3 linked regions of the Homo sapiens genome follow. The protein of the gene in region 3 purifies or fractionates together with the protein of the main gene of each other region. This does not show direct contact. Each region holds a gene or a part of one and is shown on either strand. Other genes may lie near its edges. The genes, in order: MTMR14, ARPC1A and CHURC1.

Region 1 (3,649 bases), on a different chromosome or scaffold from region 3:
TTTGGAAAGCGGATAGCAAGAGTGTGAACCAGCCCATTTCCTCCTTTTATAGGGACTCAAACTCCTGTTCTGTACCAAGCTCTTCTTATGTGTAGTACCAATCATGCAGCTGTGACACATCTGGTCTCCAAATGTGCCTTCCAGGCTAGACCTCATGTCTCCTATGTATGGACTGTAGCCCTTGCCCTGTGCCTCAGTACCAGCTGTACTGGGTGAGATCTGGCAGGTTGGTAATCAGCATCATAGCTGCAAACTGGCAACTCTGTGGGGCTTTAAAACAAATATAGATGTCTGGGCCCTATCTCGGGCCTGCAGTACCAGGAACCCCAAGAGTGGGATGTTCTCTGTGAATCCAGGTGTGCAGTCAAGATGGGGACAGACTGCTCAGGTATTTGGCTGCTACCCAGTGGACTTCAACAGCCATATTTCAGGGGCACAGACTTGGCAGACAGAAGAGGAAGAAGCCAATCCACTCACCTGAACCAGTGACAAATACCCACGGACAATATGAACATGGCCATCTCTGGCCAGACACCCCATCCCCAACACAAGCCCCTGACCACAGCAACCCAGCACTGACCGAAGAGCACAGTCCTCCTCCGTGACGTCCTCCACATCTGCCCAGGCATCATCTGCACCCCCTGCCAGAGAAACCTATCTGTCAGTACTGAGGCTGGTGACCCAGGGCTCCACACAGGGGCCTCCTCACCAGCCTCCTTCCCCATAGTGCCAAGGGTGGGCTGGGACTACATGGCTCTACTCCTAAGGACACAGTATGCCCCCATATGCCTGGTAGTCTTCACCTCTAAGGTGAACTCCTGTTTGTCTCCTGGTCCCTGATCAAAGGAAGGCCCCTGATCTCCACCCAGCTCACTCAGACCCCCTACCTATACTATTGTGGTCATGGGTGGCTATTCTTTTTTTTTTTTTTTTGAGACGGAGTCTCACTCTGTTGCCCAGGCTGGAGTGCAGTGGCGTGATCTCGGCTCACTGCAACCTCCATCTCCCGGGTTCAAGCGATTCTCCTGCCTCAGCCTCCTGAGTAGCTGGGACTACAGGTGTGCATCACCACACCCGGCAAATTTTTGGTATTTTTTAGTAGAGATGGGGTTTCACCGTGTTAGCCAGGATGGTCTCGAACTCCTGACCTCGGGATCCGCTCGCCTTGGCCTCCCAAAGTGTTGAGATTACAGGCGTGAGGCATGGCGCCCGGCCCGGGTAGCTATTCTCTATGACTGGGTTCTCATTCTACATCAGAGGATGCTGTTCAACATTCACCTGAGAAAAAATAGTTGTAGCCTGAGCGTCCATACAGCTCTCCCCATCCAGCCAGTGTGGCCGACCTGCAAATGTGCTGGGAGAGAAACATCATTTTCACGGTCAGATGGTTTTCTGAAGCATGCACAGTTGAAGGAACATGTGGGACTCCTCTGACTCTTCCAGGCCAGCATAACGGGCCCAGGAGCACTCCCCAAAGTTTTATCAGCATCAAGGCTGCCACAATCAGTCAGAAGATCCCTAGTACTTAATCCACAACCTCTACTGAGGGAGTCTCACTCCCAAACAAGAGGCGCCAGTGTTACCAACAGGATCGGATCAGATTGGGTGGTTGTTGCATGTGTACCACGTGCTGGACATGGTACTGAAAAACCCATCATCTTCTCACTGAATTTTACAACAAGCCCATGAGGGATATGTGGCAGGTGGCATGCATTGTTGCTGTTACACAGATGAAGAAAAGAAAAACAGGCTAAGGGAGGTTAAGTGATGTGTAAGGTCATATAATGAGGGGTGAGCTGGGATTTGATCCAAACCCACTGACCTCTATGTGCTTACTGTGATTTGGAACTGTTCAGTGTAGACAGGAACAACCTTTCTAGCGGGGGCAAGGGGTGAGTGAGAAATGTTTTAGAGGCTTCTTTTCCTCATCACTGAAGGGATCACTGTTAAGAGAATTCTAGAAACGGGCAACTGGCACAAACCTCAATATCTAATTGTAAGGTTACTTGTTTAAAATAAATAGTGTTTGCTGAAATCTAGTTGGGTGGGGGGAATGGGAGGAGATACCTGGTGATGGGAAGGCAAACCAGCCCAGAATTTAGCTAAAGGCTAGGAGAACATGACCCTGTTACACTACAATGGGAAATGGCGAAGTTGTGAGGTGACAGACAGGGAGTGAAGCTCACTGCTGAATGGGTAACACAATGTGCAAATGGAAAGTGGATCCCTGGAAGATTGCCAAGTACCATCTGAAGGCTTCTCCATCTCTACCTGTAAGATAATGGGAAGGAAAGTTTTGCTGCTACAGCAAAGAGTTGTGCGTGGGAACGACTAGGTCACTTTCTGGCTCTATCTGAGGTAGCAGCAGACAAGGGGTGGGGACGTGGGGACAGCAATAGAAAAGCTACCTGGATATAACCTGGGACAGAATGAGGGGCATTATTGGTGCTGGGGCAAGAGCTGGTTTGTGGAGAGGCTGTCCTGGAAGCCTACTGAGGAAGCCTACCAAGGGCTGGCATTCCTGCTGGCTTAAGTAGGATGTACTCCAGTGGGGGCCACTTAACTTTCTGTGGGTCTAAAAGCAATTTGAAAATCTGATAAAAAAGTATGAACTATCTCCTGAAAAAAAAAATATGTACACATCATAATCTACTTACATTTCCAGGGATTTCTGGACTCTCTCAAGTCCACTGATGAACCCATTCCCAGACCCCGTTAAAAGCCCTTGCTTTAAGAAGTCAGTCAAGCAGTGAGGAGTAAAGTGGATGCTTCCACAGGAAAGGGCTGAGGACCTCTAAGACTCCAAGACGTTGGCAGGGTGTGTGGCTGCCTGTTCCACTGGCATTTGTATCATATCCACTCTCCCCGCTTCATCTAAGCTGCTGGCAGCTGACCTCACTCTCCTTTGCATTATTTCTGTTAAATCTTTCAGAGCAGATAGCTGCCTTCTTTTTGGCTGTTGAGTTCTGAGACCCTTTTTCTGTTCCCAATTATTCTTCCACATCCCTTCTATTGACCTTGTCTTTTTAGTAATTGAGGCAGCCAGACCTAGGCCAGCAAAACCCGAGTCAGATGGAGAAAAACAAGTTGGCCAAGTCCCCAAGTGGGGAACCAGCCTCTTCAGGAAGGCCCCTGTGGGAGGGCTGACCCCTCTTGATAGACACCTGTTCCTTTGCCTCATGGTTCTGACTCATAACCCATCATCTCTGCCCTTTAAGCTGGCTCCTGACTGAAAACGCAAGATCTACCCTGAATGCTCTCCATTTACCTAGTTAGGAATGGCCTCTAATACGGTCCGTGGAAAAGCACTCTGTATAATTTTCTAATTTAGTAACCTCTGACCTCTGCTCCCCACCTCTTAAACAAAAAGAAAGATGAATTGTTCCAGTTTCAATGGTCTAAAAGCCAGACTCAAGTGTTTGGGGAGAAAATGGTATGAGAACTTACTGTTCAATGCTTGAACTGAGTTTTGAAAAATTATTTAATATACTTTACTTAACCCATCATATCCAAGACATTATGTCAACATGTAATCACTTTTAAAATGAATATTTTACATTTTTTCTATTAAATCTTCAAAATTTGATGTGTATTTTACACTTAAAGCATATCTTAAGTAGGATGTGAAACTTTGGGCATTGGCCAGGTG
Region 2 (4,229 bases), on a different chromosome or scaffold from region 3:
GTTACAGTGAGCCGAGATCGCGCCACTGCACTCCAGCTTGGGCGACAGAGAAAGGCTCCGTCTCAAAAAGATCACAGCGGGTCTGAAATTGAGAGTTTGACAAGTATACCTACATAAACCTCACCTTACAATACCAAAGGGAAGGAGACAAGCCCTTGGTTGGCCTGGCATGGCGCTGGGCGGCGGCGGGGGGGAGCTCACATCGCTTTGGGAAGCAGAGGCTAGAGGATTGCTTGAGCCCAGGGGTTCAAGACCAGCCTGGACAACATAGGAAAACCTCATCTTTACAAAAAATATAAAAATTAGCCAGGCACAGTGGCTCACACCTGTAATCTGAGGGCTTTGAGAGGCCAAAGAGGGACGATCGCTTGAGCCCAGGAGTTCAAGACCAGCCTAAGCAACACAGCAAGACCCTGTCTCTACCAAAAAATAAAAATTAGCCAGGCGTGGTGGTGTGCACTTGTAGTCCCAGCTCCACGGGGGGCTGAGGCGGGAGGATCGCTTGAGCCCAGGGGTTCCAGGCTGCAGTTAGCTATGATCGCGCCACTGCACTCCAGCCTGGGCTACAGGTTGAGAACCTGTCTAAAAAAAAAGAAAAAAGAAAAGCTCTCGATTAGCCCCATCTGTGGGGGCTGGGGATGCTCCAGAATTTCTAGGGTTCAAGGGCAGCAGCCTGATTGCAGGTGGGGATCAGGGCATTTCTTGGAGGCTGCATCTGCGGGGCAGGCTCTGTCCTCTGTGAATTGGGGGCCTTGCCAAGTTCCCCCAACCCTTTTATCCCTGCTGCGCCATCTTGGGAGCAGGGAACTGCTTGGGAGCAGGGGATTCTGTCCCAGGAAGGGTCGAGAAAGTTCCTGGGGGGCTTCAGGGGCTTTCCACAGAGGGAGCACGGCGGGGGCGGAGGCTCCCTGCAGGGAGCAGCGCTGAGGTAGACTGGCTCTGACCTTGGCTCTCTGAAGGGAGAAAAACTTAATCGTTCTTCAGGTCCAAGAGCTCCAAAGACCCCCAATCCTCAGTAACTCATCTCCTGACAAAAGACCTTGCGAAACTGCCAAAGCGCCACACTTCGGCTCGCGATTGTGAGGAAATTGGTTGAGGAACGGAGTGGGACGCCCATGCCGCTTCGCCAGCACTTGCCAGGCGTTCCGTGGGGCAGCATCTCCTCTGAAGGGCCGCCGACAGTACCACGCCAATGGAACGGCGTACCCTCCTCCACTGCAGCCTGCCTAACCCCGGACTGCGCGCCCGAGCTGTGCGCATGCGCGGACCGTCCGCGCGGTCGCAACGCGCAGGCGCCGTGTCCACTTCCGGGATCTGTCAGCCGCTCCCTCTGGGCTTCCGTCCTCCGCCCGCGCCCGACGGAGCCTGTTCGCGTCGACTGCCCAGAGTCCGCGAATCCTCCGCTCCGAGCCCGTCCGGACTCCCCCGATCCCAGGTAACGGCCAGCAGGGGCGAGCGTCTCACCCTGTCGGCCTCTCTTGTCCAGGCCTGGCGCCGGACTTGCCGCGGGGGCAGTGAGACGGGGGCTCAGGCCGCGGGGCCCCGAGGCTGAGGCGCGGCCGGGTCTCCCTGCCGGGGCCTCCTGAGGGGGCGGGGATCCCCTTTCTCCGTGGATCCCCTGCAGCTTTTCTCAGGATGTTCGAGCTCCTAGCCGCCTCCGATGCCCGAATTAACGGCCCCTTCTGCGCCCCCAGGGTCCTACTTGCACCTCTGCTGGGGGCATTTGTCACCGTCTCTAAAATTGTGTCAAGTAGGAGGATCTCCCGTAATCGAGCGACCCGCGGGACTATTCATCTCTTTAGTGTCTAGAGTCGATCCCTGCATACAGTAGGCGCCCATAGGATGTTTGCCTGCTCTCTAGGGCAGCCCTCAATCCTTCGGTTAATGGGGAACCTTCTCGATCTCGAGAAAAACCTTCTCCCGAGTTCTTTTAAGATTTCCCTGCATGAGTACCGCCTTCCCCCAAGTCAAAATTGCACCCTTCTCGGCGCTCTTATTCATTTAGTGGAATCTTTTATGCCAGTCCTGGCACCACCACTTTGTTGAGTGATCCTGGGAAGATGCTTCTCTGCGCCTGTTTCCTCATCTGCAATAAAAAGATTCTTACCGTTTTGCTAAGAATCAAGTGAGCTTATTTGCATAAATTGCTTAGAATAGTTCCTGGCCGAGAGTAGGTGATCAATAAATATTAGCTATTATTACTGCTTCTGGGCATTCTATGCATATCCGTCTTCCTTTCCTTTTCTATCTCCTCCACTCTCCCCAAACACCAACCCTCCAGACTTGAAGACCAGAATGGTGTCAGCCTTATTTATGTTTCTAGCCCCATCCCGGTATTTACAACACTGCTGGGAACATGATAGGCACTTAATCAGTTATAGCTTAGAATCTTTGATTATAAAGCCATCTGTTCTCCTGCAGCTTTGGAACCTTCTGTCTATGTCAACTCGTAGCTTAAATTGCCGAGATTATCTTAGTTCTGCCCTCTCTCCTCAATTTTATCTAGTCTTGTGGTTTCACATAGGGCCTGGGTTTTCAGGTATCTAAAAACAGAGGAGGGGCATCAGTCAGGAAGGTGTTTTTGTCCTGTTAGGGAGTGGGTAACTGTGGTTGTTGTCTTCCTTTTTTTTTTTTTTCCTGCAGCCTCGACCTCCTGGGCTTAACAGATCCTCCCACCTCAGCCTCCTGAGTAGCTGGGACTACAGGCGTGTGCCACCACACTGGGCTAATTTTCATTTATTTTTATTTACTTATTTTTGGAGATAGAGTCTCACTCTGTCACCCAGACTGGAGTGCAGTGGTGTGATCTTGGCTCACTGCAACCTCCACCTCCTGGGTTCAAGCGATTCTCCTGCCTCAGCCTCCCGAGTAGCTGTGACTACAGGCATGAGCCACTGCGCCTGGCTAATTTTTTTTTTTTTTTTGTATTTTTTGTAAAGACAGGGTCTCCATATGTGGCCCAAGCTGGTCTGGAGCTCCTAAGCTCAAGCTATCCTCCCACCTCGACCTCCCAAAGTGCTGGGATTTTGGGTGTGAGACACCACACCCAGCTTATATGGCTATTTTCTCCCACAAAGTATTCAGAGATCTTCTGGAGTTCATCTGTTAATCACAGTTAAAGGAAGGGACCATTTCGGAAAACTCCTATTTTGGACGCGGAGTGGTGATACTTTGATCTAGTTGTCTCATCCAATGCTGAAACAAATCCTATATAAAGAAGTTTAAAATGGTCTGCTGGTGAGGCTGGTGCCTGGACTGGAGCCTGTCTGAATGTTGAGGAGGGTGTGGTGACCTTGTTGGAGTACTTGATGTTGCTAGATTGGCTAATGAGAGTGATTAGGAACTAGGTGAATCACGGTCTTGAAAACTGACCCTAAACAGGGGACAGAAATGCCCACTTTTGTGGGCATTTTCAAGCTCCAAAGGAGTAGGGCCAAGAATTTATAGCATATGTCAACGTTTCCAAGCTCAGAGGAAACTAACTGGTGGGTTCTATGGTTGGTTTAAAAGCCTTGAGTTGGCCAGGTGCAGTGGCTCACGCCTGTAATCCCAACACTTTGAGAGGCTGAGGCGGGTGGATCACCAAGGTCAGGAGTTTGAGACCAGCCTGACCAACATGGAGAAACCCCGTCTCTACTAAAAATACAAAATTAGCCAGGCATGGTGGCACGTGCCTGTAATCCCAGCTACTCAGGAGGCTGAGGCTGGAGAATCGCTTGAACCCGGGAGACGGAGGTTGCGGTGAGCTGAGATCACACCATTTCACTCCAGCCTAGGCAACAAGAGCAAAACTCCATTTAAAAAATAGAAAAGCCTTGGGTCAAAGGGAGAAAGGGAACCTGCTGGCATGTATTTCAGGCTAGGCTCTGTACTACTTGCTTTCACATGTCTCATTTAATTCTCCTTGTGATCTCAGTGGTATATCCACTTTACAGAAGAAAAAAATGAGATTTAGAGATATCAAGTGACTTGCCCAGGGTTTCATAGCTAGTGTGTGTCAAAAGCCAGGGTTCAAACCCAGCCTCGGCTTCAGAGCCCATGGCTAGCCATACATCAGAATGACTCTGTACTCAGTGATAGATAAAGAAAAGGGGTGGGGGCCGGGCATGGTGGCTCATGCTTGCAATCTTAACACTTTGGGAGGCTGAAGTGGGCAGATCACTTGAGCCCAGGAGTTTGAGACCAGCCTGGACAACATAGGGAGACCCCTGTCTTTACAAAAAACTAAA
Region 3 (3,649 bases):
CACATGGATGACCCTAAGGTCACAATAATAACAATAATAAAAAGTATATCTTGTTAAGGCAGCATAAAGCTTTTAAAAATATGTCCGTGAAAAATAATTTGATAAACAAAAAAAATTCAGTTCCTGAATCGTAAGCTTTAGTTATCTGCAAAAGTCATTTACATAGACTATTTGATATCCCAGATAAATGAGGTGTTAATGACATTTTCCTCTTAAAGACCTAACTAGTAATTATGTGCGCAATACAATATTGAAATAGGCCTCAGAATATTTTGTGTAACATATCGACTTCCAAAAGCTGACACCTGCTAACACACTCAGGTTAAAAAATAAAGTCTACTTACGATCATAGGTAACTATTTCTTCTCCATCTTCTTCTTTCAAGGATTTGTTTGTGATCAGCATAAAATCCCGCTTACTGCACACTGCACAGCCTGTAAAGTTCAGTAAGAAAGATCCATTCTCCAGGCAGGTATTACCCTAAAATATCAGAAACAGGAATTTAATTTCTTTACATTTCAAAATCTTTAGTGAAGATGATTAACAGACTTAAAATGTCTAAAGGCAAAACAAAACTAAAAAATGGCCAGCATTTACTTCTAGGTCATATACCAAATAATTTTTGAAATTACTAGCTTTCCTAAAGAAGTGTTACTCATGTTAAAAAAAAAAAAAAAAAAAAAGCAACTAAAGTGCAGTGTTAGATCCTTAAGTCTGTAAGGACTGCCACTATGTTGAAAAGGGAGGATAAACTGAAAATAGATATTTAGAAACAACTTAAGGAAACCTTAATATAAAATATGAAAATAGAAAATTAGAAAAATTTAATAACCAACAATATTAAACGAGGCTTACCAACTAAAATTAAATTCAATCAAAATAGAAACTGAGTCAATGATAAAGATGATCTTACATAGATGTTTAGTTGTTTGTTCAAATAGTTTTGATCCTTGATCATAATACAAAATAAACAAAAGTAAACTCTCAGCTCTATAGATGTCAGTCCTTAAGGATACACATGATTGAGGCAGAGAAGCTTAAGTTCTTCATTTCGTAAGACTGACACAATGGCATTTAAGAGAGAATGGGTTTTACATCTTTACTAAGAAACTATACAAATTTTCAAAAAAAGTTTTTAAAAAAGAAATTCTAAATAACTTATGCTCCTGGCTCAAAGGAAGCCTTTTTTTTTTTTTTGGTAATTGAGATGGGGTCTTGCTATGTTGCCCAGGCTGGTCTCAAACTCCTGGGCTCAAATGATCTTCCCACCTCAGCCTCCCAAGTATTGGGATTACAGTTGTGAGCCACCGTCCCCGACCCAAAGGAAGTCTTTGCTAAAGGCTAATAATTAATAATTAAAAGTCACTTTATAAATAATCTAGTCCAATCCCATTTCTCAGCAACACACTTAAAGAGTATTTTTAAATAATGTGATTAAAAATCACTCAAATCAACGTTTCTCCAGTGCATCTGTGTCTGATATTGTGCAAAGCACAACAGAGGATTCAAAGATGAGCCAAACATGTTGCTACCTTCAAGGAGTTTTAAGAAGCATCAGCGAAATTAAGATCCACCATAAATAATGCCACTAGGAAGTCTTTCTGGATTCCAAGCACCAGAATTAATCTCTCCCTTCTATGTATTGAGGAAGAGATTAATTCTGGTGGGAGAATTAATCTCTCCCTTCTATATATTGAGGAATCTCTCCCTTCTATGTATTGAGGAAGACATTAATTCTAGTGGGAGAAATCAAGACATTACTACATAGTTATTAAATCATAGGTGTACTGCCTTAACTACTAAAAGGGAAAAGGGCCTTAGGATTAAAGTATACATTTCCAGTTATTAAGAACAAATGCTTTGCTTTGATTTTTTTTTTTTTTTTTTTTTTTTGAGACGGAGTCTCGCTCTGTCACCCAGGCTGAAGTGCAGTGGCACACTCTCGGCTCACTGCAAGCTCCACCTCCCAGGTTCATGCCATTCTCCTGCTTCAGCTTCCCAAGTAGCTGGGACTACAGGTGCCCGCCACCACGCCCTGCTAATTTTTCGTATTTTTAGTAGAGATGGGGTTTCACTATGCTAGCCAGGATGGTCTCGATCTCCTGACCTCGTGATCTGCCCGTCTCGGCCTCCCAAAGTGCTGGGATTACAGGAATGAGCCACTGTGCCCAGCCTTTGATTTTTTTTTTAATAAAATCTACTGAGGTACAATTTACATACAATAAAATTCACACACTGTAAGGGTATACATAGGTGAATGACTTTTAACCAATGTATATACCCATGTAACCACTACCCTAGTGAAGGTATAAAACATTTCTATCCACCCCAAAAAGTTCCTTCATGCTTTTCAGTCTATCTCTAACCTCCATCCCACCCCAGACACCCACTGATCTGATTTCCATCTCCAGTCTTGCACGTTCTAGAATTTTATATAAACAGAATCAGTATACTCCCGCATCCAATTTTCCTTGCTCGATATAATGCCTATGTTCATCATCACTGTTGTTCTAGGTACTGGTAGTTTGTTGCTTTTCATTGCCAAATAGTATTCCCTGTAGGATTCAGCTGTTGGTAGATATTTGGGTTGTTTCCATTTGGGGCTATTATGAATAAAGCAGCTATAGAGATTCATGTGCAAGTCTTGGATGGATACATGTCTTCCTTTCCCTTGGGTAAATATGTAGAAGTGGAATTGCTAATATGGTAAAAATATGGTATATTTAACTTTACAAGAAACTGCCAAATGGTTTTCCAATTTACATTCCTGCCAGCAATGTGTGAGTTCCAGTTGCTCTATAGCTACATCAATACTAGGTACTGCTTTTTATTTTTGCCATTCAGTGACGTAAAGTGGTATCTCATTGTAGTTTTAACTTTTGTTTCCTTGATGACTAATGATGTTGAGCATCTTTTCATGGTGCTTATTCATGTATCTTCTTTTATGAAATGTCCATTCAAGTCTTTTGCCCATTTTCAAAAAGTTAGGTTGTTTATTTTGAGTTGTAAGAGTTCTTTATATATCTTAGATACAAGTTTTTTCCCAAATATATTTTCTCCGTCATTGATTTGCCTTTTTTGATGGTTTCTTCTAATGAGCAAACAAGTTTTGATTTTCATAAAGTCCAATTTAACATTTTTTCTTTTATAATTTATACTTTTTTTCTCCTAAGACATCTCTGCCTACCCCAGGGTTGCACAAAGTTTCTTACATTTTTTTCTAGAAGTTTTATAGCTTTTAGTTTGTAGATTTAGGTTTATAATCCATTTTGAAATAATTTTATATATGAGGTAAGGATCAAGGTTTATTTAGTTGCGTATGGATTTCCAGTTGTTTTGGCAAGATTTGTTGAAGAACTGTCTTTCCCCCCACTGAATTACAATGGTGCTTTTGTAGAAAAAAGTCAATGACCATATATATGTGGGTCTGCTTTGACTATTCTGTTCCCTTGATACATATATCTACCTTCCCACTAATATCAAACTCTCTTGATTACTATAGTTTTTATAGTTAGTCTTTAAATCAGGTAGTTTATGTCCTATAATCTGGCTATTCTTGGTTCTTTTCAGTTTCATGTAAATTTTAACATGAGCTTACACACTTTACAAAAAAGTCTACTGGAGTTTGAATTGGGACTGCCTGGAATCT

What was found.
Region 1: the proteins of CHURC1 (region 3) and MTMR14 purify together in Homo sapiens (affinity purification with mass spectrometry; one large-scale study listed by BioGRID and IntAct). This does not show direct contact.
Region 2: the proteins of CHURC1 (region 3) and ARPC1A purify together in Homo sapiens (affinity purification with mass spectrometry, with the first as the bait; one large-scale study listed by BioGRID). This does not show direct contact.

The regions. Positions count from the first base shown.
Region 1 is NC_000003.12:9,666,424-9,670,072, reverse strand, and holds part of MTMR14 (phosphatidylinositol-3,5-bisphosphate 3-phosphatase MTMR14), read right to left. Parts: intron 1,355-3,649; coding exon 1,279-1,354; intron 642-1,278; coding exon 581-641; intron 1-580. UniProt on the Homo sapiens protein: Lipid phosphatase that specifically dephosphorylates the D-3 position of phosphatidylinositol 3-phosphate and phosphatidylinositol 3,5-bisphosphate, generating phosphatidylinositol and phosphatidylinositol 5-phosphate.
Region 2 is NC_000007.14:99,324,570-99,328,798, forward strand, and holds the start of ARPC1A (actin-related protein 2/3 complex subunit 1A), read left to right. Parts: upstream 1-1,328; 5' UTR 1,329-1,435; intron 1,436-4,229. UniProt on the Homo sapiens protein: Probably functions as a component of the Arp2/3 complex which is involved in regulation of actin polymerization and together with an activating nucleation-promoting factor (NPF) mediates the formation of branched actin networks.
Region 3 is NC_000014.9:64,920,822-64,924,470, reverse strand, and holds part of CHURC1 (protein Churchill), read right to left. Parts: intron 481-3,649; coding exon 345-480; intron 1-344. Other genes in the region: CHURC1-FNTB protein, read right to left, coding at 345-480. UniProt on the Homo sapiens protein: Transcriptional activator that mediates FGF signaling during neural development. Plays a role in the regulation of cell movement.